Regions from separate parts of the Homo sapiens genome. Here region 2 is linked to region 1. The links come from fine-mapping of genetic effects on gene expression. A gene starts in region 1. The other region holds a variant in brackets. All regions are shown on one strand. Distances are from middle to middle. Region 1 holds the start of PLSCR4 (phospholipid scramblase 4). Region 2 overlaps PLSCR4 (phospholipid scramblase 4).

Evidence for each region.
Region 2: its variant is fine-mapped to the expression of PLSCR4 in lung (TOPMed, PIP 0.97).

Annotation. Positions count from the first base shown.
Region 1 is chr3:146,243,491-146,259,386 of GRCh38, forward strand. PLSCR4 (phospholipid scramblase 4) reads right to left here and starts at 7,615. Exons shown (of 9, transcript NM_020353.3): 1 at 7,470-7,615. RefSeq lists enhancers at 12,730-13,719, 13,720-14,708.
Region 2 is chr3:146,193,102-146,208,997 of GRCh38, forward strand. It overlaps PLSCR4 (phospholipid scramblase 4), which reads right to left. Exons shown (of 9, transcript NM_020353.3): 4 at 13,425-13,660; 5 at 7,934-7,976; 6 at 6,712-6,938; 7 at 3,531-3,692; 8 at 2,023-2,181; 9 at 1-1,354. The coding sequence ends at 1,310. Among named protein-coding and RNA genes, the nearest start is that of PLOD2, 40 kb to the left of the region's middle. The variant T/C (reference allele first, on the strand shown) is at 6,873.

The DNA of each region.
Region 1 (15,896 bases):
TGCTGTATAGACTAAGCAACCCTAATCCAAAAGTCCAAAATCTGAAATGCTCAAAAATCCAAAACTTTCAGCACCAACATGATGTCACAAGTGAAAGATGATGAGGACACTGTTAAAACTGCAAAGTGCCTATAGATGACATGGTGAAAATATGTGATGGGTTTACTGAAGGACTCTAAGAGCATTCATTCATCACAGAATAAGAAATTGTGTCAGTCTGTAAAATCAACAGAGACTTCTAAGACAAAAACCATTGTTAATGAGACAGCGGACTCCAGAGGAAACATTCTGAAAAGTCATCCATCAGAATGCTTCCTCATTTGTAGAGAAAACACTTGCTGGTCACTTGGCTACTTCTGATATTTCTTCTCACTTAAAATAATAAAATTCAGTGAATGATAACCTTGTAATCAAAATACAGCATTGTAGGTAAAGAATGAAAGCCTGCCATTGCTTATTGGTGGCTTTCCGACACAGGCATTCTGGAGATACTACTGTGCTGCTTAGTTACCCTGAACGCATTCTCTTTTCACTGTACTAATGATACATCCTATTTTTTACTGTTAAGCACTTATTTGTGAGTAATGTAAGAAAATGATTACTTATCAGTAGCATAATGAATTTAGAGTCAGGAATGATGGTGACGTCAAATAACCACAGATTGTCCACATGGGTGATTGAGATACTGATACCTTTGCTTTCTGATGGTTCAACGTACGTAAACGTTTCATACACAACATTATCAAAAATATTGTATAAAATTATCTTCAGGCTATATGTTTAAAACATAATGGAACATGAATTTCATGTTTACTTGGGTCCCATTCTCAAGATACCTCATTATGTACATGCATGCCTTGTTTTACTGTGCTTTGCTATACTGTGATTCACAGATACTCCATTTTTTTAAACAAATTGAGGGTTTGTGGCATCCTTGTATCAAGGAGTCTATCAGTGCCATTTTGCAGAACAGCAACTTCTCAGTTTGTCTCTTTGTCAAATTTTGGTAATTCTCACAATATTTCAGACTTTTTCATAACAATCTGTTATGGTGATCTATGATCAGTGATCTTTGATGTTACTATTATAATTGTTTTGGGACCCCATGAACCATGCCTATATAAGATGGTGAACTTAGTAAGTGTTGTTGTGACTGCTCCACAGAGCAACTATTCTCCCATCTCTCCCCTTATTCTAGGACCTCCCTATTCCCTGAGACAAAACAATATTGAAATTAGGCCAATTAATAAGCCTACAAATGCCTCTAAATATTCAAGTGAAAAGAAGGTTCGTGCATCTCTCACTTTAAGTCAAAAAGCTGGAAAAGATTAAGCTTAATGAGGAAGGCATGCTGAAAGCAAAGACAGGCCAAAAGCTAGGCCTAGATTCCTCTGATGAATCTAGGCAACGTAAATTGAAAACTTTCTAAAAAGGATTCACCATTTTAGATACCACTAAGAACTTTTGTTATTCATGGGAGGAAGTCAAAATATAAATATTAACAGGAGCTTGGAAGAAGTTGATTCCAACCCTCCTGGATGATTTTGCGTGGTTCAAGACTTCATTGGATGAAGTACCTGCAGATGTGAGAGAATAGCAAGAGAACTAAGAGTTAGAAGTGAAGCATGAAGATGTTACCGAATTGTTGCAGTCTCATGATAAAGCTTAAAAGGATCATTGCTTCTATGGATAAGGAAAGAAAATGGAAGCCATTTCCCAGATGATTTTAATATATCCCCTCCTGGCCCCAACACACACCCCCTCAGTTACAGATCTATGAAATTTTACCCCATTCAGATAAAAACCTATCTGCTGTAGGAATCATAATACATTCAATCAAATGTTCAGTTTACCAATATAAGACATATCTATTTTTTCTCAAATCTCATTTGTAAACCCAAGTAAATTTCCTCTATACCAAATTCAAAATAAATCCAAAATATGCCATATAATATTTTTAAGTGATACATTCTCATTTTCACAGAAGGAATGCAAAACGAAAATAGTAGTGATTGTAAACTACATAAATATCAAGCACAATTGTTAAGTAAACACATTATCATGAAACATTATGATAAAATAATTTTCCTTTAAAAATATAGTAACAGTTTTGTAAAAATCATTAAATGTTTACATTCAAATGTTAAACATATAATCTGGATAATTATAATGATAGCAATGTTTTTAAAAAATATGGAAACTGGAGGAAACATGCTAAGATATAAACATTTCCTCTTTAAATTTTCTACAATAAATGTATAATAAATTATATAAACTGAGTTTTTAAAATAATTTTTAAAACCTGACAATGTACTCTCTTGTAGTGAATCTGTAACTAAAAAGACCTGCATGTTCATCAAAGAGGAAATATTATGCACACCTTTCCAAGTACAATCCTCTTTATAGACTTTAAGCCAAATTTCTTGGCTCCTATGGTGGACTGTGTTAATTACTTTTATGGGTTTCTTGGCTATAGGGAACTGGATAGTTCAGTGGGCTCAATATGAGTGGATTAAAGTCCAATGACTGAAGGATTCAGTCATTTCTGTAGACATCTTGTAAACTTAGTAAGTTTCTGTCACATGGGCTGAAATTAGAGAAACGAATTCCAGGCTTGCACAAAAGATAAACCTAGGTCCATGTTGATAAAATATGCTGCAGCAGGAATGTCCCATAGATACACAGTATCTTCATTATAATTACATGTTAACATATATGTATTTAATTGTATCTTTGCATAAAATCAATTCTAGAAGAAACTTAGGGAGTGATTAATGTTCAACAAATTACAAGGGCAAAACCTAAGATTTTTATTGTGTTGTTTTTATAACCTATATCAATATATTTATTATTTTATTAACATCATGACTCCTTCAAAAGAAAAAGTGTATGGTAGAATATTTCATTCTTTTTAGCAAGTGTGAAGGATCTTGGAGGTTAGCTATTTGGCTTTAATATAAAATAAAAGATAAGATTAAATGAAAGCAAATTGATAGCCACAGTCCATACATAACCTTTATTAAATATATTAATTTAGTTCAAATTGTTTAAAGAGAATATCAGGTGTCTCCTTTTTAGCTTTCAAAAGGGAAATGTTTTTGTTATTTAGAGTAGAAAAATATCAGAACAATATTCTCATGATGTTTATATAAGACATTAAGGAAACATTACCATGCCAACTATGATTACCAAGAACGCCTCATTGTGTCATTTTACAGCTAGTCTTTTAGTATTTAAAATTGTAGTAAAACAAGATGTCATGTTGCATACAGTTAAGTCACTTTGATAAGAAACTTTACATTTATGAAAACAGACTTTTAAAAAACAGATGTTATGTGCAAACAAACACAAATATAATTCAAGGAGTCGGCAGTGCATACATTTACACAATACATTTATACAAAAAAATCCCACCTACTCCAATTCCCATTTCCCATTTGAAAAGGCAACCACAGACATTAGATTTTTTTTCCTCCAATAGATTTTCTAAGCATATATAAACTAATACACACAGTTTTTATAAAATGGCAATCATCTATATACTTTTCTGTGTCTTTTTCTTTTCATTTATTAAAATGTCTTGATGTTAATTACATTTCAGTCCATATAACCTCATTCTTTTTAATGGCTGCAACATAATGTATTTAACTGGCTGCCTAATGACAACAAGTTAAATCGTTTCCAAATTTAGGCTATTACCAAAAATGCTGAAAAAAATATTTTCTTCCTGTGGATCTGTGCATTAAATTATTGGAAGCAGAACTGATGGATCAAAGTTTTGTACATTTTTAAAGATACTATCAAACTGCACTCTAAAGAATTTGAATCAATTTAGACCCCAGACAAAAAGTTACATTCCTAATACAGTATTTTATCAACATTTTTGTAGTAGTCAATCTGATATATAAAAAAAAAAAATTGGTTTTATTTTCCATATATCTCATAATGAGGAGGCTGAGCCACTTTTATTATTTGTTTGAAAGCAATTTGCAACTCTATTTCTGTGAACTGCCTGTTTGTCATTTGTTCATTTTTGTTAGCTTTTCATTTGTCTTCTTTATATGAAAGGTATTAAAATTTTATATTAAAATTATCTTTTCAAAACTTATCATTTGTCTTCACTGCATTTTTGTCATGCAGTTTTATTTTTGAGGCAGGGTCTCTTTCTGTTGCCCATGCTGGAGTGCAGTGGCATGATAATGGCTCACTGCAGCCTTGACCTCCCAGGCTCAATCAATTGTCCTACCTCAGCCTCCTGAGCAGCTGGCACTACAGGTGGGTGCCACCATGCCTGGCTAATTTTTAAATTTTTTTAGAGGTGGGGTATCGCCATGTTTCCCAGGCTGCTCTCAAACTCCTGGGCTAAAACAATCTGCCCACCCCTGCCTCTCAAAGTACTGTGATAACGGGCGTGAGCTACCGCCACCCAGCCTTACCATGCAATTAAAAACAATTTTTTTCCAACTTTAGATGTTTTTCTTTTTAAGGACTAGCATATCTATCTCTTTCATCCTGAAGAATGAGTACTATAAAAATGAATTTTAGCACAATGCTGGTGAACATATGAGTATGAACATTGCTGTATTTTTTGTTTATAAAAGTTAACTGGTTGTGAAATCCCTCAAGCAAAATTCTTCACTGCTGTTCTTGCAATAAACATCATAAACATCAATATTAAGGAAGGGGATTTTAAAGGAAGCAGCTGAAAGAGGACACTTATAAAAGAAAAAAAATGAGACAATATGAAAGGTTTTGTGAAATATATTTCTTCTGTAGTAAATGACAGCTAATATATTCAAGAAGGCAATGTTCTGTATAAATTACTATCACTATCAATTTTTCCTTATACACACGCATACATTATAGAAATGTGTAAAACAACATCACTACTCATAATAATATAATTCGGCTGTGTGTAAAACATCACTACTCACAATATAATTCAGCCTATATTCCAAATTATTTACAAAAATATAATTACTACACTACACACACACAGACACACACACACACACACAGTGTTTCAACTTGTTGTTTCATTTTGTGTTTTAACTTTATGTTTTGGACATATTTCCAAGTTAGAACATTTAGAGCTACAATGTTTTAAACTGTATATTATTCCACCTTTGAATATACCATACATTATGTAACCAATTCCCAATCAATGGCTACAGAGCTGTATCCATGTTTTCTACATTGTAAACAATCCTACTTTAAACATCTTTGACAGAGATTTTTATTTGTACACTTGGGAGCATGTTTTGCTGGATAAATTCCAGTTAAGTAAATGAACATTTGTAAATCTGAACAGCTTTAACCCTAAAACAGCTTCACCAATTCACATTTCCACTAAAAGTTTGTAAAATTATATTTTCCTCACTGCATTTTCAACAACACCTAAAGTTATCAGACTTTCAAAATTTGTAAAATTAATGCAAAAATTGATGTCTTACTTCATATATGTTTTGGATAATTAGTGTGGCTAACAGTATTCACTCTGCTTATTATTTGCATTTCTTTTGCTTTGAGTTGACTCTTTTTATCCTTAACTGGGTCATTGATTTTGAAGGTCATTAATAAGATTTCTAGGTATATTAGCAAAATTATCTTTTTTTTTCTATTAACAATGTCCGCAGTTTGTATCTTTTTTGGGGGATGCAAATGTTAATAAAAATCATGTCCCTAAATGGGTCTAGGTTTTTGTATTATGCTTAGAAATGCTTTTCCCACATGCAATGTGCACAAATATCTATTCAGGCTTTCTTTTTCCCTTTTTAGGCTGCATATGTTTAGATTTAAACTAGTAAGCCATCTAGACTACATTTGTCTATTAACAGTGAGGAAAAGTTCCAGTTTTATTATTAGGTTTCCCAAACAAATTCCTGCTTGTCCAAGTACATTCAATTAAATGTTATTTCTTCTTCCCACCCAGTGATTTAAAATGTATGCTTATCAAATGCCAGCTTTCCTTTTATTCTTCCATGTCTCTTCAGTTTCATTTACACATCTGGTAGTAGGTCTACTGCACTGTCTTTTAATCACCACAGTTTTGTAACACCTTTTATTATATGAAGAAGTCTCCACTATATATATGTGTGTATGTATAATATTAAATGTTAAAATCATATATAATATATAAAATAAGACATAATTATATATTTTGTATTTTATTATTTGTAATATATTATACATAACGTTAATATGTTTGTTCTTCCACATGAGCTAAACAGTACAGTTAAAAACAGTAACAAAAATATTCAGTTAGGATTCTACTTATACGTTGTTTTAGAGAAATGATATCTTTACCTAGAAGAATGTTATGTATTTTATTGGATTCTCATACATACCTTTTTATATCTTCTTAAAAATAATTTCTCAATTGTGTGTTATTTCATGCCAAACTGAATTTTACTTTATTTTACTGTATTATCTAGTTTATGTATAAACATCAACTGACTTCTATAAATTAAGTATGATGCAATTGGAAACTTTGATAAATTCACTTATGCTTCCCATCAAATTTCAGTGTTTCCTATGGACATTAAGGTATACACTCACATCATGCATAAAGTGATAATATGTTCCCCTACCTGTTGTCACTCGCCCATAGAATTCACAACCATGTCACAGAGTGTAATGATTAGCATTCTTGTCTTTTTCAAATTTAATGGAAATGCTGCTAGTATTTCACAGCTATCCATGAGAGCAGATAGACAGATGGAGGTTGTGTTCTATTACTATTACAGGAGAATGCAATTTAAATTAGGCAATCTATTCCCCTTTAAGCAGTATCAAGTTTGGTGCATTATATCTTCACAAGTACTTATTTTGGTGGCTCCATTCTAAATGCAGTATAAAATTAAAAACTAAATTGTAGATCCTAAGAGAAGATAAGGCCACAAAATAAAATCCTAAGTCTTTAAATATGAACGTTTTTAAAAACAAATCAAGCACAGCCCCAAATCGCCCCAGTTTGCCAGAATTGGAAATAAGAGAGAGGGATTCTCTCCTGTCACCGCCTCCACTCGCTGAGCAATTAAAAAGTTACTATAAATAGCGTTTTTACCTGCGAGTGGCCTGGCCTGAGTCCGTGAGAGCCGCGCCGTAGAAACGCCAGAGACCCATGAGAAACCCAATCAAGCGAGACCTGTCACGCAGAGCGAAACGAAAGGGCCGCCCCCGTGAAGTGCAGCCAGGACCCCCATCCCTGGGCAGGAAACTGCTCGCTCCCAAACCCTCTGCGTCTGCAGTGCAGACGCGCGCCCGACACCACGGAACTTCTGCAACCACCTGAGGATGCGACGCGAGCGCAGTGTCCGGGAACTGCTAGCGCAGGACGCCGCGCAACCTCCGCGCCTGCCCGCAGGCACCGCGGCCTCGGGCCTCCCCTGACGACGCCCTCGGCCCCGCAGCCCGGGCGCCCGCGCCACCCTGTCCTGCTCTGCGCCCGCCTGTCCAGCCCCACTCACCGCCTGCCCCGCAGAATGCTGGGCACCGGGGACGCCAGACGCCGGGTCTAGTTGTACTGGCAGAGGAAAGGGAAAGGAAAGGAGGCAGGGAAGGGAGACGGAGAGGATTTTTCAAGTTATAAACAAAGTAAGCGCGCGGAAGGGAGGGCTAGGCGCGGGTTCTGGGGGCGGGTCCGGCACGCCTGGACCCTCCTTCCCCGCGCGCGGCTTCCCCGTCTCGGACCCCGCCCCGCGCTGGGAGAGCCGCCAGCCCGGGGGAGCGTCTTCCTGGAAGAGGTGGGGCACCCTGAAGTCCGCTGAAACCTAAAAGCCGAGGGGGAGGAAGAAATGAAGAAAATAAGTTGTCACTACTCTAATAAGAGGTGAAAGAAAAGATAAAAGCCAGCCCACGGTCACTTCCAATCAGAGGGGCAGGTTGCAGGGCCTGGGAAAGGGAGCTTTGTTCATAGATTACTGCGCCTAGAGAGAAAATGAAGAAACCCCTCTTTCTCAAGAGCCTTTTTTATTTTTTTATTTTTATTTTTGATACGGAGTCTCACTCTGTCGCCCAGGCTGGAGTGCAGTGGCGCGATCTCGGCTCACTGCAAGCTCCGCCTCCCAGGTTCAGGCCATTCTCCTGCCTCAGCCTCCCTAGCAGCTGGGACTACAGGCGCCCGCCACCACGCCCGGCTAATTTTTTGTATTTTTTACTAGAGACGGGGTTTCACCGTGTTAGCCAGGATGGTTTCGATCTCCTGACCTCGTGATCCGCCCGCCTCGGCCTCCAAAAGTGCTGGGATTACAGGCGTGAGCCACTGCACCCGGCCTCAAGAGCCTTTTTGATTTGCATTTGCGCCCACCCCCAGGTCCTTGGCTTGGTGATTTAGCCTTGGCAATGCCGTGCTGGCTGGAAACACTTGGGCATAGGGCCCAGAAATTCTGTTTTCTTTTCCACAGAATTGGGGGAGGCCAATTTGATCTTGGAGGGAAGGCGGGAGAGACGCCAATAAAGGGGAAAGGGAGCAGGTTGCCCATGTTTTCTGACATTGGGAGAAAAATGCCATTTGCTTATTACTGTTAGGCACAAATATTTCTTTCAGACCAATGGGATTCAGTTCTGTGGTGGTGCTTGGAGAGAAGCACAATACACTGACAGGAAGTGGGAGAACTGAAGGTCCTCTGACCTTATAAAGAATCAGAACTGGACAGAAGTAAGCTTGATTAAGCTCTGAGGAGTACTTGGCAGAACCCCATTGTGGGAGAAGGTTGGAAAGGGGAAGGGATGTGGGAGTGGAGTTCTAGAATTTTATATTTTTCTTTGTATGTGTGTTATTTGTTAATATTCATGTGAGAATAGATTAAAAAATTCATACTGTTCTTCTCAGTAATAATTGCACAGAACATTTCTCAGATGCAGACATAGTGTTTTACTGAAAGCATAAAACAAAGAAACTGGTGGTGAAACTAAATTATAATAGCATATGTTACTGTTGGGAGCAAGCCCCCCAAAATCTGGCCATAAACTGGCCCCAAGACTGGCCATAAACAAAATCTCTGCAGCACTGTAACATGTTCATAATGGCCCTAATGCCCAAGCTGGAAGGTTGTGGGTTTACGGGAGTGAGGGTGAGGAACACCTGGCCCGCTCAGGGCGAAAACCGCTTAAAGGCATTGTTAAGCCACAAACAATGAGCATGAGCGGTCTGTGTCTTAAGGGCGTGTTCCTGCTGCAGTTAATCCGGCCCATCCCTTCGTTTCCCTTAAGGGATACTTTTAGTTAATTTAACATCTATAGAAACAATGCTAATGACTGGTTTGCTGTTAATACGTGGGTAAATCTCTGTTCGGGGGTGTCAGCTCTGAAGGCTATGACACCCCTGATTTCCCACTTGACACCTCTATATTTCTGTGTGTGTGTCTTTAATTCCTCTAGCGCCGCTGGGTTAGGGTCTCCCCGACTGAGCTGGTCTCGGCATGTTACCTTTGTTTAAAATTTATGAAAGAGGCCAAGTAATTGAGCTTATGAATGTAAACATCCACAGTGGCCACGTGAAGATACCAAAAATTTCAAGAGCAAAACATGTCTTGTGAAACATATTGCTTTGAGGGATTAAAATAAAATCAAGTATGTCATATACCCCAAATCACAACTTTCGAGGGGAAGAAGAAGAACTCAATTTCCTGTTTTTCTGAAATTTCCTGATCTGATGACTTTCCAACCTGGACATTTCGAGGGATGACAAATTAACTACTTTTTATACTAATCCCATTTTAGTTGCTCTGTTGCTCCAAGTGTATTTCTTCGTGTTATTTCCTTTTCACTGGTTGTTCTTAGGTTACCACAGTCTACTTAGAGTTAATAATGTACCACTTCACATAAAGTTAAGAAATTTATAATTACTTTACAGTTCCTCAATTGTATGTGCAAATGCTATCAGATTTTACATACCCATTAATTATAGACTTTACACAACAAAATGTTTTAAGTTTTGCTTAACTAGTGCATTGTCTTTTACAGAAATTAAAAGAAGAAAATAGCTTTTCTATATTTCCACATATACACAATTTCCTGTGCTCCTCGTTTTTTTTCTTATAGATCTTAATTTCACCTATTATCACTTACCTTCAGGCTAGAGACTTTCCTATAGTAGTTCTTGTTATTTTTGAGACAGTGTCTCACTCTGGTTGCCTAGGCTGGAGTACAGTGGCACAACCTCAGCCCACTGCGGCCTCGACCTCCTGGGCTCAGGTGATTCTTCCACCTCAGCGTCCCAAGTAGCTGAGATTACAGGCACATGCCACCATGCCCAGCTAATTTTTTTTTTTTTTTTTGGAGGGGGGAGACAAGATTTGGCTTTGTTACATGGACTGGTCTAAAACTCCTGGATTCAAGCAGTCTGCCTGCCTTGACCTACCAAAGTGCTGGGATACAGGTGTGAGCCACTATACCTAGTCCCTTTAGTATTTCTTGTAGTGCAGAACAGCTACAGACAAAATCTTTTTAGATTTTTAAATCTAAAAATGTTTTTATTTTGTATGAATTTTGTAATGATATTTTTACTGGTTATAGAATTCTGGGTGTACAGATTTTTTTTATTTTATTCCCCAACAATTTTGACCTCCATTTTTATCTGACAGAATGCATATTGTTGGTTTTAAGAATAACTTTTTATCATTGGTTTTTCTGCAGTTAGTCTATGATGTATGCTTCTTTCTGTATTCTACTGTGGTTTTCTGAGTTTCACAGATACATAAGTAGATATTATTCACAAAATTTGAAAAACTTGCAGTCATTATTTCTTTACTGCACCATACCCATTTCTCTCTCTTCTCCTTCTGGAAATTCAGTTCAATTAATTGTATGTTGGACCATATGATACTGACTCACAGCTCACCAAGACTTTATTTACATTTTTTTGATTTTTTTCTCTTTAAGTTAAATAATTTCTATGGATCCGTCTCAAAAATATGCTGACCCTTATTTCAATCTACTGTTAAGTCCATTACAGTATTAACACTTTTCAGTGCTAGTATTTCTATTTGGTTCATTTGTGCAGCTTCCATGTCTTTTGATGAGATTTCACATCTGTTCATTCACTAAGACCATCATTTTCTTAACTTTTTAACTTATAATAACTGTTTGATAAGGTTTGGATCTGTGTCCCTCCCAAATTTCATGTTGAAATGTAATCCCCAGTGTTAAAGGTGGCCTGTTGGGAGGTGTTTGGATTATAAGGGAGAATCTCCTGTGAATGGCTTAGTGCCATTGCCTTAGTGATGAGTGTGTTCTTGCTCTGGTAGTTCCTGTGAGATCTGGTTATTTAAAAGAGTGTGTCCTCTCCCCTCTCTGTCTCACTCCAGCTCTTGCCATTAATACACCTGCTCCCCGTTTGCTTTCTGCCGTGATTGTAAGCTTCTTGATGCCTCACTAGAGGCAGATGGTATCACTGTGCTTCCTGTGCAGCCTGCAGAACCATTTAAACCTGTACAGCCTGCAGAGCCAATTAAACCTCTTTTCTTTATAAATTACCCAGTCTCAAGTGCTTCCTGTACAGCCTGCAGAACCAATTAAACCTCTTTTCTTTATAAATTACTCAGTCTCAAGTATTCCTTTATAGCAATGCAAGAACACCCTAACATACTGTTTTACTACTTTATATCAACATGTATTTCACCTTGTCATGTATTTCTATGGGCTGGTTTTTTTTTTTTTTTTTTTTTTGGATGATGAGTCATGATTTTCTTTTTCTTACAATGGATATTACTTTTTTATTATGCACAGGGCATTGCAAATAATATATCTGAGTTATGTCTTCTTCCTCTAAGGAGAAAGCATTCTCTGGCAGGCATTTGAGGGCTGATCACCTTTAACATCCGGAGCCATTGGTTTATACTTTAAGGCATGACTATTGAATACCTGAAGATTTTACTAGGCTCCTCTATCCTTTGTGTTACTCAGATTCCAAACAGTATTTCATTTGCTGTATACAGCAATTGAAATCTCTGTCCAGTCCTTTCAGCTGCTGCCTTCTCCTTTCTGCTGGCATCATTGGAGCGTCCCCAATAGACACACAGTTCCACGGTCAGTCAAGGATTTGAGGACTTTTAATTGGCAGGTATTAATATTATTGTCTCTGTGTCTCCCTACTTTCTGGGATTACTCTTCATTTATAAGCACCCTGGTAGCCTGAAATCTCTACACCGATATCACAACTCAGTAATTCTGATGCATCCTACTTGAGTTCTAGCTACGTTACATCTGAGAACTGGGAGTACCCACAGGGAAAGTGTCTATAAGCGTGGGTCTCACTCAGTCATTGTAATTCCCTTCTTCACTAGTTGAATTAAGACATTTTTGCATCACCACAAAAAAATACCTGAGGCTGGGTAATTTAAAAGAATAGTGATTTAGTTGGCTCGCAGTTCTGCAGCTTATACAGGAAGCACCTAAATCTGGTCTGCTTCTGGGGAGGACTCAGGGAGTTCTTACTCATGGAAGAAGGCAAAGGAGGAGTAGGCATGTCACATGGGAAAAGGGAAAGGTCCCAGACTCTTTTAAAGTCTTTAAGTTCTCACATGAATTAATTGAGCAAAAAGTCAGTTATCAGTAAGGGGCTGGTCTAAACCATTCATCAGGGACCCATCCTCATCATGTAATCACCTCCCACCAGGCCCCACCTCTAATATTGGGAATCACATTTCAGCAGGAGATTTTGAGGGGACAAATATCCAAACCATATCATTCTACTCCTTGCCCCTCAAAACTTATGTCCTTTTCAAATTTTAAAATACAATATTGCCTTCACAATAGTTCCCCAAAGTTATAACTTTTTCCAGTATTACTCAAAAGTCCCAAATTCCAAGTCACAAGTCCAAAGTTTCATATGGAGTTGTTTTTTTTTTCCACCTATGACAGTGAGATTAAAATCAAGTTATTTACCTACAAGATACTGTGGTGGTACAGGCATTGGGTAAACATTCCCATTCCAAAAGGGAGAAATTGGCCAAACGAAAGGGGCAATAGGCCCCACACAAGTCTGCATCCCAACAGAGCAGTCATTGAATCTCAAAGCTCCAAAATCTCCTTTGACTCCATGTCCCACATCCAGGGCACACTGATGCAAGTAGTGGGCTCCCAACACCTTGGGCAGCTCCACCCCTGTGGCATTCCAGGATGTAGCCCCCATGGCTACTCTCATAGGTTGGAGTTGGTTGCCTGTTTTGGTTCCAGGATGAGGTTGCAAGCTGTCAGTGGCTCTACCATTCTGGGGTCTGAAGGCTGGCAGCCCCCTCCCCACAGCTCCATTAGGTAGTGCCCTCGTGGGGACTCTGTGTTGGGGCTCCAACCCCACATTTCCCACAGCTCCATTAGGTAGTGCCCTCGTGGGGCCTCTGTGTTGGGGCTCCAACCCCACATTTCCCCTCTGTGCTGTCCTAGTAGAGATTCTCTGTGAGGACTCTGCCCCTGTAGCAGGCTCCTGCCCGGGCAGCCAAGCTTTCTTATACATCCTCTGAAATCGAGTGGAAAGCTGCCAAGTCTTCTTCAAACTTGCATACCATGGGCCTGCATACTTAACACCACATGGATGCTGCCAAGACTTATGGCTTATCCCCTCCAAAGCAATGGCTCAAGCTATGCCAGAGGCTCTTTGAACTCTAGCAGCTGGAGAGGCCAGGATTTGGGGAACAATGTCCAGAGGTTGCACAGGGCAGCAGGGCCATGAGCCTGCTCCACTAAACAATTTTTTCTGCCTGGGCCTCTGAACCTTTGATGGGAGGGTCTACCATAGAGATTTCTCAAATGCCTGCTAGATCTTTTCCTCATTGTCTTGGATATTAGCACTTGGTTCCCTTTTAGTCATGCTAATCTCTCTAACAAGTTGCTGCTCTGCAACCTGCATATATTTCTCTCTTGAAAATGCGTTTCCCTTTTTAGCCACATGGCCAGGTTCTGAATTTTCCAAATGTTTAAACTTTGCTTCCCTTTTATATTTAAGTTCCAACTTTAAATCACTTCTTTGCTCCAGTACCTGATGGTAAACTGTTAGAAACAGCCAGACCACATCTTGAATGCTTTGCTGCTTAGAAATTTCTTCCACCAGATAGCCTCCTAGGTCATTACTCTTGAGTTCAAACTTCCACAGAACCCTAAGTCATGGACACACTGCAGCTAAGTTCTTTGCGAGGGCGTAACGGGGGCTACCTTCACTCCTGTTCCCAATAAATTCCTTATTTCCATCTGAGACCTCCTCAGTCTGGACTTCACTGTCCATATTTTAATCAGCATTTTGATCACAGCCATTTCACCATTTAAGAAGTTCCAAACTTCCCCTCATCTTTCTGTCTTGTTCTGAACCCTCTAAACTCTTCCAGCCTCTGCCCATTACCTAGTTCCAAAGCCATTTCCACATTTTCAGGTATCTTTATAGCAATACTGCACTCCTGGGACCAATAGTCTGTATCAACATGATGTTTTTGTGTTGCTCCAAAGACATATCTGAAGCTGGCTGAATTATAAAGAAAAGAGATTTAATTGGCTCATAGTTCTGCAGGCTGTACAGGAAACATGGTGCCTGCATCTTCTTGGCTGCTGGTGAGGCCTCCAGAGCCTTTTCTCATGGCAAAAGGCAAAGCGGGGGCAGACACATCACATGGTGAATGAGGGAACAAGAGAGAGAAGGGGGAAGTCCCGTACTCTTTTAAACAACCAGATCTCATGTGAAATAACTGAGTAAGTACACACTTATCAAGGAGATGGTGCTAAACCGTTCATGAGGAGGTGGGACCTACCCTCGACCCACCCTCATGATCCAATCATCACCGACTAAGCCCTACTTTCAACATTGGGAATCGCATTTCAACATGAGATTTGGAGAGGACAGATATCCAGACAATATTACCAGTCAGATGCCTTACAATTTCTGTCAGCTTTTGATTGTTCTCCAGTGCCTTCAAATAGTTTTTATTTTATATTTTCCCAGAGTTTATTATTGTTATCTAGGGAAAGATTATTGCAATCCAAGCTAACTTATCATCATTGGAGCTCCAACTCTCACAAATTCATAACTTTTGAAAGCAATTTATTTTCAGACATGCCAAACTGTTAGAAATTTTTTTTATTAAACTAAATGTACATGTATCCTTTATCCCAAAAGAGAATATTTTTCTTACTTATTTAATATAATAACGCTGTAAATTGTTGTAAATAGCTATTAACTTTTCCTTAAGTATTTTCTTCCTAAGACCAAACAGCCTTATTTCCTTTTGCTGTCTCTATTTGTCATTATTGCAGATCCCTTACATTAAGACTACCTTCCTTAGGTTTATTCATTGCCTTCTAATATTTGATCTGATGTTTAGATAATACAATAATATATCAATAGGTCTCTATTAATGAGGCCTAATTGCATTAGTTTTATTGGCATATTATTTACTCCTAGTATTATAAGTAATACTATATTTGTGGTTCATTAAACCCTAACATTATTACCTTAGAGTCAGTCTTTTCATTGTGTACTAGAAAGAATATTATCATTGTTAATATCTGATAGATGAGCTTTTATTTCCTGAGCTCAATTCTTTAGTCCAATAAGTTCTATATGCAAAGGATAAGAGATATGGAAACCAAATAATTTTAATAAAAAAGTAGGCAAACGTGTTAAGAAATGAGCCCACGGCTGATGTTGTGGGTGGAGGTAGAGGAGTATAGTGAGAGAAAGGCTCTTTCTAGCACCTGAAGTAATGGCTTGGTGGTTTTACCAGTAAACAATATAAAGCAAATTGTCCACTGTTTTCAATACTACCCTCATGATTTTTTGATTTAAAGTGCTTCATTGGTTTCACAATTTTTATACCTTTTCACATAGGCCAAGATGATAAATAAATTTGCCCTCTGACCAATCAGTGTGAGAAAAATATTTGAAAAATGGGAAACATTTCTATTTGTGT
Region 2 (15,896 bases), 50 kb before region 1:
AAGCAAGTTAATTAGAGTGTACTCACTTATACACTATGCTTTTAATTAGTTAACACAAAAATGTGTAATTGATAATTTATTATTGGTCCTACATATTATTTACTGGCATGCTGTAGACCATAGAGAAATAGAATGTTTACTGTGTTTTATTATTATTACTCTGTGTAGATACATATTTATCTATCATGTCAATAAAAAGAAGCAAAGCAGTATTAAGCAGCGGTGGAATTTGTCGCTTTCACTTTTTATAAAGTGCTACATAAAATGTCATATTTCCAAATTTAAAAACATAACTCCAGTTCTTACCATGAGAACAGCATGGTGATCACGAAGGATCTTCTTGAAAAAAACAAAAACAAAAACAAAAAACAATGATCTCTTCTGGGTATCACATCAAATGAGATACAAAGGTGTACTAGGCAATCTTAGAGATCTGGCAACTTATTTTATATATAAGGCATCTGTGACCAAGAGACGTTATGAATTAAATGTACAAATGTATTATGTATAAATGTATTAAATGCAAGCTTCATATAATGACACCAATGTCTCTAAGTTGCTCAGAGATCTTGACTGGCTGTGGCCCTGGCCAGCTCCTTTCCTGATAGTCTGATTCTGCCTTCATATATAGGCAGCTCCTGATCATCCATGCCAGTGAATGAGAAAACAAGCATGGAATATATAAACTTTAACATTAAAAAATGTTTTATTTTGTAATAAAATCAAATTTCCCATTGAAACCTTCAAAAACTTTGCAGAATGAGGTTTTGATATATGTGTACAAGTAGTACCTTCTTAGTGCAAGAAAACATCATTATTTCTGTCTGCCTGCCTTTTTGTTTTTAAAAATGAAGACTATCATTGAAACAAGTTTGTCTTCAGTATGAGGACATGTTGACGGAGAGGAAAGGTAGGAAAGGGTTAGGGATAGAAGCCAGGTTATTTTATGCCAACAAAGTCTGCTCTAAAAAGCCTTATTGTTTCACTACCTATTAATATGAGAACTCTGGATTCATTTTCCCTTATCTCATGTTTATAGTGTTTTAAGCTTACTTTGTATATGTTTACTGGGTTAATGAGTCACAGCTTTTCAGGATGAACTCCTATTCTACTAGAGAGATACTCAATTGAAACACACTTTTAGATTGTGTTCTTGCAAGCCCACTCTCAGCTGTCAAAGTTAACACCCAATAAAAATACTCTACAAAGCAAAGAAATACACTTGCAAATAACTGAGTGCTGACTGTAAGCCCAATCCAACTTTTCCATTTTTCAAAATTAACCATAGTTGATGGCTTGCTGTGTCTCTCTATCTTGAACGTTGTGGTGGAGATCTTTCAAAATACATGAAGTCCTGAAATTGGAAAAAGAATTATATGTAGATATATAGATAATTAGGTATAATGCATGCGGTATTATCCTTTGTAATTTATTAGGGGATTCCCCCATTCCAGTTAAAATACATAAATTTAGGGAAATATTTATGAAGAGCACCTACTGTGAAGAGCAGCAGTTACAAATTTGGAACTGTTAGTTTTCCATTTGAAGTGCCAATTAACTGAATCTCATCATTAAAAAGAGGAAAAACTTCATAATCTCAGGATTGGACAACCCCAAAGAGTACAGTGACAGGCAGAAAGGAAGGAGGAATGGGACATCCACTTTAGAGTTATTTCACTAAGAAATCATAGGCTAGGCATTTTTAAGTAGTGACAATGACAAATAACATGCAATGATGATAATTATACCCAATGGATACCTAATGTTATCTAAGTACTCCCCTGGTCATTTTACCATGATAGCTAACATTCATAACCCTGAAAATTATAAGTATTTTAATCTCCATTTTACAGATGAGGAAACTGAGGCTTTCAAGTGTAAACACTTTCTAAACCATGTAACTAGTAAGTGGCACAGAGATAAGTTGGATTGGTTTCAAGGCTTATTCTTTATACTACACTATACTGCTTCTCCATCAGAAAGAACAACTCTCTCAGGATAACTCAAAAATAGAAGGCTTACAATGAGGAAGCAAGCTCCAAAAATCATGGCTTTCATCTTCACATCCAGGTCTAGTGGGAAGTGAATGTCAAAATGGTCAGCATCTGCCATTGCTGATAACAAACCATTCCACTTCCGGATAATACTGCCGATGTTGGATATGCCATCAAGGGATTTGACCTGGAATGACAAGAATGTGCCTTTATGATGATTGAAACGCATTGAAGCATGTTTTAATGTTCTGCTTATGTTCAGATAACATAAATACAATGCAGAAAAAGACTATGTAATTATATAATTTGAAATGAGAAAATAATGGCCAAAAAGGGTTAACTGCCTTGCAACTGGTTAATAACTGAGCTAGGGTATTCTTAAAAGTCTCAGACTGCTGCTCTTTCTTCATCTTCAAATGAGTTATTAAGGGACCTTTTAAGAAGAGGTATGATTTGAACTGATTATGAAATTCTTCTCAACATAGTAAAGGGTGGGAATTGGGAGAGAGTCACTTCCAAACTAGGGAAACCTATGAGCAAAAACCGGGAAACAAGTACTGTTCACTTCACATCACTTAAGTTTTTGTGAGTGAAATTCACCTTGTCTTCTTAATATACGGCCAGATACCAACGAGCTTCAGTTTCTAAAAGGGGAAACCTGGCACTTGTCACAGGGAAAATATCCAAATACTAACTTCTAATGTCACTTGGCAATGGGAATGATCACACACACCCTGCCCTAGCAATCTGGCTTATCTACATTGCTCTTTTAATAAATAAGCAATGCTTAACGATACAGTAATAGAAAATAAGAACTAAGGAAAGTTTCTTGAGTATCATAGGAAACATATGAGCAAGCAGTTTTGAAGATGATGAATCTTGCCTAATTGCAAGGCATTCAAAAAATATTCTTTAAGAAGCCTAGGAAATATTTCTAGGAATTTCCTGTGTCAGACTCGTAGGGTAATGAACCAGCATTTTGTAGCCAGTGAGATAAAGGCAAAACAAAATAATTTTTCTTTTTATTGAAAAAAATGTTAAAACTATTATAAGTTTTATCCATATTGTTAGTGTTATCCGATTTCTTGAGGATGCTGACAGACTTGTATCCTGCAAATAAGTATTTCCACAGCCTAAGGAGTACTTGGTATGTTCTGTGACATGTTGGGCACTTGCATTACTTAGAGCCTATATTCCCAGCCTAGAAATCTAGGGAAAAAAATGGTTAATTACATATAGCCAACAATAGAATAGATGAATTAGGTCAAGCTATTTACTCTCAGAATATTTAATGTATTAAATGATTTCTTTTTATTTTTATCAAGTACTGAAGTCATAAAAAAAGCTTTCATTTTGGAAAACCTCAATCTACTCACAATAACTTTAAAATCTTTTGATGTCAACTGGTTAATTAACTCTTTCCTAACACTATGTTATTCATTCACATTAAAAAAAAATGTCTACAACCAGATCTTTCCATGGTCTGTTAATATGAGTAGGAAAAATATCAGAAACACTATTTTTACATAGTTTCACCTCAAAAACAGAATCTGAACCACAGCCATAGGTTGAGCATGGCCCACGAACTCTCATCACATTTTCTTTCTTCTCATTTTGGATGCTGTACACCGCCCTGCACAGGTTCCAATGTTCCGCAACAAAGCCAATGGTGACACCAGGAGGACACTGCACCTCCAGCTGCAAACAAAACAGTGACAGAAGTTAGGATGCTACATGCATACACATACACTTACACATACGCACATACACAATCTAGATGTGTCCTCACTCATTCAAAGACTAGGGAAATTATTGTTGGGAGTGACAGCCTTCCATCTCACCCAGGCCATTCTTCAGGTTGGATTTCAGTGAAAAGCTTTAACGGATGAGGTCATGTTTGCCTCTGGGATAGACAGCAGGCTTAATTAGGGCTTGTTACATAATGGCCAGTTGTCCAAGTTCAGTGTTGGCAAGCTGCATAAACAGCTGATATTTATAACTCTGAAAAATATAAGTATTTTAATCTCCATTTTACAGATGAGGAAACTGAGGCTTGCAAGTGTTAAACACTTTCTAAAACATGGAACTAGGAAGTGGCACAGAGATAAGTTGGCTTGGTTTCAAGGCTTACTGTTGATACTACACTACACTGCTTCTCCATCAGAAAGAACAATTTTCTCAGGATAAGTAAAAAATAAAAGGCTTACAATGAGGAAGCAATGGGCTTCTCCAAGTCAACCTCAGAACTTGGAGATGAGGGGAACCTACACACTTATGCTGCTTGCTGTGCTGTAAAACGGTCCTCTGTCTCCTTCCTAGGAGTCTCATTTCTTCTGACTCAGTCTATTAAACAGTTAAGCTGACTTTTTAGATTTGAAATTGGGTAAAATCAAATCTCAGACATGAAAATTATAACAGAAAACAAAAAAGAGGCATTTTGAAAATTATATATTGTGAAAACAACAAAATGTGTACATGGGTTTATAAAGCCATTTTTTAAAAGTTTTAAAATATTGTCCACTACCCTGTTTTTAGCTATTTATCTTCAACAATATTATTTTGTGAATAATTAAGATCTTCCTGTTTAATAATAATGAGTCATAAAGATTAAATTATTTGGTAAAAGCCCAAAGTGAAAATTTTATTGACTATTTCTCTGGTGTTACATGTACTTTCATAAGAATTTGGGGAAAGGATTACCCAGGACATGGAACAGGACTGCACAGCTTCATAAATTATTAAATTAAGGTATTATTGTTCATATGTATAAATTCACACCTATATACAAATATATAAATTTGAGAGTATCATAGAGCTCTCATATAAGTTTAAACCTATGAGATAAAAATAAAAATGTACAAAAATAAATTCCTTAAAAATTCATACCATGGTATACTACTCAGCCATAAAAGGGAATGAACTAGTGGTAACAGCTTGTACGAATCTCCAGTTAATTACTGTGGATGAAAAAGACCAATCCTGAAAAGTTACATACTATATGATTCTGCTAAAATAACACTCTCGAAATGACAAGATTATAAACATAGAGAACAGATTAGTGGTTCTGAAGGGCTAGGGACAAAGAGGAGGGAGGAATGTGGATATGGTAATAAAAGAGGACTTTGGTGATGATGGAACTGTTTGGGATTTGTATTGTGCTGATGGAAACAGGAATCTACACAAATGATAAAACTGCACAAACTAAATGTATACACACACACACAAATTAATACAAGTAAAACTGGAGAAATCTGAAGAAAAACCTAGGTAAAGTTATGAGACAAAAGTGTCATAAATTGGACTAGGCTTGTAATTTTTTTTAGGAGTAAGGGTCTTTCTCTGTCACCCAGGCTGGAGTGAAGTGGTGTAATCACAGGTCACTGCAGCCTCGATATCCTGGGCTCAAGTGATCCTCCTACCTTAGTCACCCAAGTAGCTGGGACCACAGACACACATCACCAGGCCTGGCTAATTTTTTTATTTTTTATTTTTGTAGAGATGGGGTTTTACCATGTTGCCCAGGCTGATCTCAAACTCCTGGCCTCAAGTGATCCTCCCACCTCAGCCTCTCAAAGTGTTGGAATTACAGGTGTAAACCATCCTGCCCAGCTGTAATTTTGATTTGCTTTCCTTTATTCTGGCTTCCTATAATTTCAGAAGGCTGTATCTATAGGCTTTGATTAAAAAAAAATCTAACTCATAAATATGAAGATAAATGCCTACTATATCCAAAAGGATCAAGGATAATAGGTATTCACTTCACATATAAGGCTGTTATCACAAAGACAATAATAACAAAGGAGTAAGATTTCTGAAAAGAGAAAATATTCATTGAGTACTATACTATTTGCTAGGAACTGTGCAGAAGAATTGACTTAATCCCTAAAATGATCATCCTATCCGATAGGTACTATTAATATTTCCATTTTACAGGTAAATAAGGCCTGGAGACGGTTGTAAAAAATTAATATTTAGTAAAGGATGTTATTTAACAGATCATTTAAGTATTTCAGTAATCCTATGATGTATTATACTACCCAGTTTATGTATAAGAACACTAAGGCTCAAACAGGTTAATTAAATTTTACAGATTTAAGTAGGTGACATATCTAGAATTCAGACTCTGTTTGGTTTCTCTCCAAAACCGCTTCTCTTTTCCCTACAGAAAATAACTTGCTTAGAAATGCAAGATAATGAGTAACCACACTGTAACTCAGCACATCTGTATTCTAGTTCCAGCCCTGTCCTTAGCCAAATGTAACACCTCAGCCATTTAGTAATTTTGAGCCACTCTTTATCTGTGGCAAGGTATGCGTTGTGATGGGTACTCTAAACATATTTAAGTCCCTTCCAATTCTAAAAGCATATGTTTATCTTTAGCATTGCTTTATCTAGTGATAGGTACGTACATTTAGATAAATGTGGTAGGTAAATTTCTAATTAAGTAGATGCAACTGATGGAATCATAATTATTGACTACACATATGTCAATTGTGCTTGACCCACTTATTTAAGCACTAAAAAGTAGTAACCAAAAAGAAAAAATCCTCTATGATTTTCCTTAGGCGAGACAATTTGGTTTCCTCCCTCCCCACTATCTTCTTCCATTCTGGCTGGCAGGGCCAGGGAATATCCTCCCTATGTAGTGGAAGGAGCACACTATGCCATGAAGAGTTAGATCAGAAGCAAGCTGTGGATCAGACTTCCATTCTCTGACCTCTTGTCTGGCAGAGGGGCAACAGAAGCAACAGCAGGTGCATCTGAAGGGTCTCTGCATTGTCATGATTTCTCGGCCCATACAATCAGTGACCCGGAGGACGAAGGGCCTTAGTGTCCGATAGGCATTCCTGGTAAAGTCATCTGTGTCTTCGGTTACAA[T/C]GTAAACCATCTGGTCTGAGTTGTTTTTAATATCATATCTATTATTAGTTTCAAAACATGTCATCACTAAAAAATAAAATGAGTAAGTCTATATTAGAAACATTTAAAATGGGCCTCAGAAAGTCCTTGTTTAGTATTTCTTAAGGGCTTAAAGCAACATAGCTTTTTTAAAGTTTCAGGTGAAATATGTAGAATTGATTAGAGTACCCCAAAAATCATATTATCTAAAAGTATTTAAGCAATTGTGAAAATTTAAAACATTTCTTTTAAGAAGTTCAGTGTAAACATTAAAAAAATTTTACATAAAAGAAAAGATTGAAACAACCCTTTTGTTTCAATTCCTGGAGTATCTGAATTCAGAAAACTTTAATTATAAAACCATTTAAAAAAATTATACATTTGACCATTAATTAATCAGTTCACGAAACATGCTTGGAGGAGTAGGGTCATTACTAATTACAAACAAGAGAACAAACCAAGAAAAGTCAAAGGCCCTATGTGGTGGCCAAATGAATGTGCACAGCTGGTTTAGTGAGGGTCAGTACTCTTGTAGGATGAACTGAGAACAGGCATCATTTTGACTGAGATCTTTTCTTCTTACTTCCAAAGCGAGGGCACTGCACTACGATTTGGCAGATTTGGATTCTATTTCCAGCTCTGCCACTGATTAGCTGACTGTGGTTTAAATGCTATTTCCTGATCTGGAGGTGATTAGCTGACTGTGGTGTCCCTGGCTAACTCATTTAGTCTCTTGGCTCCTTTTTTTACTCATCTTTGAAAGGTAAATGTGGAGTAGGAACAATGGGTAAAGTGTAGGGCTATTGACCAGATAAAATGTAAGCCCTTTTCAAATCTAAGAGCTTATGATTATATGATGTATAGAAGGATAAAATTATACAAAATAATTCACTTTATTACTTTCTTGAAGATAGGGTAATAGAGCAGTTTTTTTTTCTTTGAGCCACTAAAACATGATCAATATAAAGAAGGAACTAGATATTGGATAATGCAAATTTCCATCTGATTAAAATACTGCTGAGCACTACAAAAATTATACATACTTTCCAGAGGCTCAAAATGCTGAAGAACATGTATGTTGTCCAACTGTTGGGATAAAACAAAGCAATCAGAAGACAGAAATAACAGAACTAAAATACCACTGTAAAATAAACTGATGAAATAGATATTAAAATGCATCAATTGATACCAAAATATATTTTTGAAAGTCAATAGAATCAAAAAAATTTTACCAACTGAAATTAGCTTATCTGCATCTGATCGGATGGATATTAGCAGAGTTGTCCATATTAGAAAAACACTTTCTTTCAGTACCACTTTAAAAAAGTTGTCTGCTATATCAGAAAAACAAAACATCTACTTGCTGTAGTAATCACATCAGAAGAAGCTGTGCTTATAGATTGTTCCTAGATAAGTCCCTACTCACTGGTCTCTCTACATGTCATCCATAGCCTGTAGTTGTTTAGTTAAGTTCAGAACGATTAACACGGACCAGCCATAGAAAAGGGAAGTCTCTCAGTGGCTTAAGGAGAACAAACAAGCCAGGGTGAACCTCACATGGAGTGTCCCCATTTTATATTATTTTACAGGTACCTCCAGCAGAGGTTTATAAACTGACTTGCATTCACTTGATCTACAAAGGCCAGGGTCTTCCCCAAGTGCACACTTTAATAAGGGAAGGGTCTATTACACTAGGAAGCATGTGAACAGGATTAGGGGAAGAGAAAGGAAACATTGTTAGATGGCAACCCATGAAAAGGACGGCTGGGTATATACCATTAGAGAAATTTCTATCTTAGGAATCATTCTAAAGATGAGCAGTTTGATGGGCACATTATCTGTTACATGTGAGAACATTCTAGCAGAAGAAAAGAAACCTTCTTGAGGACACACTGATTATATTTGTATAATTTTACATCATTTAGACCATTAGACCATTCCTAATCCCTGAGCCCAGAACACTGCCTGAAGTGCCATATTTCACCAAACATTGGTTAAGTACATTAATTAATGAAGAATATATGAATGCAGTAATACATGAAATTAAAATAATGTACCTAAACACGAATGTTTTATGGTGTGATTAATTACAGGAGGGTACAAAGGGCACAATCTATGCTTAATTAAAACCTTTTTCTTACATAAAAACACAATGACATAAGGAGACATAAATATGCCTCATAAAATACCAAAAGTGACTACTAAAATGGTTTATAGTCCATTTTAGAAAAGTAGGGTATTAAAATCTAGAAGTGAAAAGTAAAAATATAAACTACAGGCATACTCTGAAGATACTACAAGTTTGGTTCCAGACCAAGGCAATAAAGCAATTATTGTAAGAAAGTGAGTGACATGAATGTTTTATTTTCTTATTGAATCTAAAATTATGTTTACACTATAATGTAGTCTACAGTGTGTGTAAGAGTATTAATCTAAAAGAAGTATATATCTTAATTTTAAAAAACTTTATTGCTAAAAACTGCTAACAATCATCTGAGACTTCAGCTAGTCACAATCCTCTTGCTGGTAGAGGGTCTTGTCTCTATGTTAATGATTGCTAAATGGTCAGGGTGGTGATTGCTGAAGCCCAGGTTGGCGGCAGCAATTTCTTAACAAAAGATAATGAAGTTTGCCATATCAATTGACTGACTCTTCTCTGCATGAAAGATTTCCTTGTAGCACATGATGTTCTTTTTAGTACTTTACCACAGTAGAACTTCCTTCAAAATTGGAGTCAATCCACCTAAAAACTGCCACTGCTTTATCAATTATATTTGTGTAGTATTCTAAAACCTTTGTCATTTCAACAATGTTCACAGAATTCTCACCAGGAGTAAATTTCATCTCAAGGAAGCACTTTCTTTGCTTATACATAAGAAGCAAGTGCTCATCTGTTAAAGTTGTATCATGAGTTACAGTAATTCAGTCACATCTGCAGGTTCCACTTCAAATTCTAGTTCTCTTGCTGTTTCCATCATATCTGAAATTACTTCCTCCACTGAAATCTTGAACCCTTCAAAATCATCATAAAAGTGGCAATCAGCTTCTCCCAAACACCTGTTAATGCTGATATTTTGACCTCTTCCCATGAATCATGAATGTCCTTATTGGCATCTAGAATGGTGAATCCTTTCCACATGGTTTTCAATTTATTTTGCCCAGATCTGTCTGAGAAATGACACCATCTATGGCAACTATAGCCTAACGAAATTCATTTTTTTAACAATAAGACTTGTAAATTGAAATTATACTTTGACCCATGGGCTGCAGAATGGATGTTGTGTTAGCAGGCATTAAAACAACATTAATCTCCTTATACGTCTCCATCAGAGCTCTTGGGTGACCAGATGTGTTGTCAGTGAGTAGTAATGTTTTGCAAGAGACCCTAACAGGGAAGTCAGTCTGTCCTTTGAAGTTTTCACGTCAGGCGTTGACTTCTACTTTTTAGCTATGAAAGTCCTAGAAGGCATCTTCTTCCAACAGAAGGCTGTTGCATCTATATTCAAAATCTGTTGTTTAGCAGAGTCACCTTCATCAATGATCTTGTTATAGTTAGGATCTTCTGAAAAACTTACTGCAGCTTCTACATCAGGACTTGCTGCTTCACCTTGCACTTCTATGTTACAAAAGTGCCTTTTTTCCCCCCTTAAGCCTTGTGAGCCAACCTCTGCCAGCTTCAAACTTTTTTTTTCTGTAGCTTCCTCACCTTTCTCAGCCTACATAGAATTTAGGAGAGATAGGGCTTTGCTCTGAATTATGCTTTGGCTTAAGGAAATGTTGTGACTGGTTTGATCTTCTTTCTAGACCACTAAAACTTTCTCCATATCAGCAATTAGGCTCTTTTACTTTTCACCATTCATATGTTCATTGGAGTAATATCACTTTCAATTTCCTTCAAGAACTTTTCCTTTGCATTCACAGCTTGGCTAACTGGTGCTAGAAGACTAGCTTTTGGCCTATCTCAACTTTCAACATGCCTTCCTCATTAAGCTAAATCATTTCCAGCTTTCTTATTTACAGTGAGAGATGTGCAATTGTTTCTTTCACTTGAACACTCAGAGGCCATCACAGGATTATTAACTGGCCTAATTTCAATATTATTGTGTCCCTTCCTGGAACTCAATAATATGTGTCTGTTAAGGGGTAGTTCTTTGACAAATTGGTAAAGTCACTGGTAAAGCCAAGACTCTGAAAATAATATAATCGTGCTAATTTGGATGTTTTAGGATTCTTGGGAACCTTGATAAAGATTCATGTAATCTTCATGTGAGATCTCAAAAAGACTAGGGTAGATAGAGGAAAAAGATTGGCTCTATGTCTTGCATTCACACATAAGAAGGTATTTAAGCTAATAACAGCCACATAGCTTTCATCCATTGGGACGGCCCTTTATGTCAAAAATATTAGGCACATTGTGACCCTTATCTCATTAAAAATTCTCCTAACAATCTGGTAAGGTAGGTATTGATAATACTATTTTATAGATGATAAAATTCAAGCAGCAAGAGGTTAGAAATTTTATCAAAGTTTTTGAGTTACTAGAGAGTAGGACAGAATTAAAAAACCAGGTTTGCCTGGGTCCAAACCTGTGTTTTGTTTATTTTTTCACTTATTTCTTTAACTCTAAATATTCCTAAAAGGGAAAACTCATAAAATACGTTAAATTAACCTCTGTCAGAATCATAAAAGAAATTAAGAAACAAGTTTTTAATATTTAAATAAACAAAGCTATACAATTTGAAAAGAGAATTGACTGTAGAAGATGTTAGATTCCCAAGAACAACTTCTGTATTTATCACCAAGTATAGAAATGAGACTTTCTAAACTTGATAAGCTACAAACATTTTATTATCTTCTGAAATAATGTAGATGTTTACTCTAGCACTTCACCTGAATGAGTTTTGCATTTTGTCAAAATTTTGTCCAAATAATAATTTAGGATAAATTTTGGCTTTTGTAAAATCCAAATTTTCCTGATCCAACTGTATTGACTTCTATACACCAATGTTATAATATTATACAAATAGTTTTCAGCACACAAGATTATCAGGGTCCCTGTCAATATACAGAATTGAAAAGAGAAATGACAGAACTCGAGGAAATACTTGGCTGTTGACCTGGGGAGGTAAGTATTAAATTGGGAAGTTTCTTCTTTATAATGTATTTCAGCACTTCCTTTTTCTATAAACAACAACAAAAAAGATTCAGAAGGTTCTATGGAATCTCCAATAAAGTAGTCTCCCTCTTATCCTCAGGGGATACTTTCCAAGCCCTCAGTGGATACCTGAAACCACAGATTGTACCAAATCCTGTATATACTATGCACAAATTTTTCTTTTCTTCTTTACAATTTCATGGACATATTAATTTTACTATAGATCTTAGTAACCTTAGCATAGGAATTTTTTTATTATTAAGTAAAAAACCTTCACCTTTACATGGAAAGGAAGACCTTATGGCCTCTCTTTGGTCTTTCCTTGACATATCCAAATTCCCAGCATTACTACTCTTGTGCTTTGGAGACATAATTAAGTAAAATAAGTTACTTCAATGCAAGCACTGTGATACTGTAAGTCAATCTGATAACCAAGATGTGACTCTGGGTCTGTATACTATGGATAACATCTACAGCGTGGATACACTGGACAAAGGAATGATATATGTGCCAGGCAGAACACAGCAGGACTGTGCAAGATTTCATCATGCTACTCAGAATAAATTTAAAATTTATGAATGGTTTATTTCTAGAATTTTCCATTTAATATTTTTGGAACCTGGTTGACCATTGGTAACTGAAACCGCAGGAATCAACGCCACAAATAAAAGGCGTCTACTCTGCCAGCTTTATCTTATTTTCATTAAGCAGGTTTTTTAGTTTCAGACATGGGTTTTTAAACAAAACTATTTGTGCACAAACTTCCCATATTACCCCAGTTTTTGATCTGCATGTCCTGGTGGCAGCAGAATATCTACATAGATGTTAATTAGGGAGTTATTGTGTTGTATGAAGGGGGTCTCTGGAACTTGGCCTGAAGCAATATTCTTTGTAGGGTCCATTATTTTTATTTATATTGTTTGTTTTTGGGGGTGACAAGAGTAGCTAATGAAAATGATGGGTGGTGGTAAAAAGCAATGGGCTAAGGCACTCAGTAATTTACCCACTGTATTGTGTTTTGTTCTCTTTTGTGCTTTTTTTGATGTTAACTGTTTACTTCTAAGCAAATAACACAACTATCCTCTATGATAGTTTTTCTATTTCCATTTGTACAATTCTTTCAAGAAAACATCTTGAATGCCTTGAAGTTCAACATAAATCCTTATGAAAAACATACTCATCCCACTATAAACATCCTTGTACTTGCTGTTTCCCCTTCATATTTCTGAAACTGGTATCACTGTTCTTATAGTTTCACAAATGGCATCTGTCATCACTGACCCATCTCCTTTATTCACTCTGGTCTGCTTTTTTTCTCTCTTTGTTGGATCCCTATGGTCACATTTCATAAGAAAATAATTTGTATTTTCATGGAGTACCTGAACTAAGTATTCCAGACCAGGAGGGCAGTTTGCCATAGGAGTTGGCCCTGGCATCCATGTTATTGGAACAGACTGATTTGGCATAGGATATTTGCCAGGCTGATACCGGACAGGATGGATACCACCAACTGGCTGGTACAAAGGGAAGGTACTGGGTTGCTGTGGACTGTAGTATCCCATAGGCAAGCCTCCTGGGTAGCCAGTAGGTGGAGGGACAGCTGTTCCAGGGGGTCCTGTGTTCAAAAGAAATCAAAGTGTTATATATTATTAACACTAAAGTTAGCATAACTTTTTACATGCGATGAAATAGATCACACGACATCCACTTAAATATAACAACTTGTTCCATTTTTGATTCACACTTTATGCAGATCATGGTTGCATATGACCCAACGATGTATTAGGGAGACTTATTTACATATTAATTCATTTAATCCTCTTAAAGCTTATAAGATAATTATTCCCATTTCAATGGTACAAAAATAAGTTTTGAAACATTAGAAGAAACATGTTAGCTTCTTAATAAATTAGGTTCCTCCTTGGAGATAATAAACTTACCTAATGAGGTTGTAGTGGGATTAATTACTAACGTATTAATTACTAACGTATAATTACTAACATATAATTACTCCTGCAAATTTTTGTTATTATGTCTATTGTTATTGTTTGTGGTTACATAAATAATGTCTACTTCATTTCAAAGGAGTGCTTTTAATGAATATTTTAGGTTGCCTTGACCCAATCGCTTGTACATATCTTCATCATCGAGTTCTCAGACTGGTCCCCAATCCTGACCTCTTTTAGATTCAATTTCTTAAAGTTATTTTCTTAGTAGTTATGCTGCTATAACAAAATAAGCACAAACTGAGTGGCTTAAACAACAAGCATTTCTTTCTTATAGTTCTGGAGGCTGGGAAGTTCAAAGATAAATGTTAGCATGGTCAAACCTGGTGAGAGCCTTTCCTGGTTTGCAGATGTTCACCTTCTTGCTATATGCTCACAGAGTGAAGGGGGAGAGAGAGAGACAGAAAGACAGAATCCCTCTCATGTCTCCTCTTATAGGGTATGAGTGCCATCATGAGGGCTCCACTCTTTTGATTTAATTTTCTCTGAAAGGCCCCACTTCCAAGTAACATCACATTGGGAAATGGGACTTCAATATGTGAATTTGGGAGGGATATAAACATTCAGCCCACAGCACTTATCCCTCTATCATTTCTCCCCATTCCACCTTCAATCAGAGATCTGATGAATTATCTTTGTCATTATAAGTCCATCAAGGAACCTAGATTTCCTTAAATGGATACAAGATTTTATCATGCTTTAAGAGCACAGTCTACATATTCAATGCAATTCCCATCAAAATACTATCACCGTTCTTCACAGAACTAGAAAAAACAATCCTAAAATTCATATGCAACCAAAAAAGAGCCTGCATAGCCAAAGCAAAACTAAGTAAGTGAAAAGAACAAATCTGGAGGCATCACATTACTTGATTTCAAATGATACTATAAGGACATAGTCACCAAAACAAGATGGTACTGGTATAAAAATAGGCACATAGACCAATGGAACAGAATAGGGAACCCAAAAATAAACCCAAATACAGCCAACTGATCTTTGACAAAGCAAACAAAACACAAAGTGGGGAAAGGACACCCTATTCAACAAATGGTACTGGGATAATTGGCTAGCCACATGTATGAGAATGAAACTGGATGCTCATCTCTCACCTTATATAAAAATCAACGCAAGATGGATCAAGCACTTAAATCTAAGACCTGAAACTATAAAAATTCTAGAAGATAATATCAGAAAAACCCTTCTAGATATTGGCTTAGGCAAAGACTTCATGACCAAAAACCCAAAAGCAAATGCAACAAAAGCAATGATAAGTAGGTGGGACTTAATTAAACTAAAGAGCTTTTGCACAGCAAAAACAACAGTCAGCAGAGTAAACAGACAACCCAAACACAATCTATACATCTGACAAAGGACTAATATCCAGAATCTGTAACGAACTCAAACAAATTAGCAAGAAAATACAAACAATCCCATCAAAAAGTGGGATAAGGACATGAATAGACAATTCTCAAAAGAAGATACACAAATGGCCAACAATTGTATGAAAAAATACTCAGCATCACTAATGATCAGGGAAATGTAAATCAAAACCACAATGTAATAACCCCTTATTCCTGCAAGAATGGCCATAATCAAAAACTCAAAAAATAACAGATGTTGACATGTACGGAGAACAGGGAACACTTCTACACTGCTGGTGGGAATGTAAACTAGTATAGCCACTATGGAAAACAGTGTGGAGATTCCTTAAAGAACTAAAAGTAGAACTACCATTTGATCCAGCAATCCCACTACTGGGGTATTTATCCAGGGGAAAAGAAGTCAAAAAAAGATACTTGCATATGCATGTTTATAGCAGCGCAATTCACTGCTATAATACGGAAC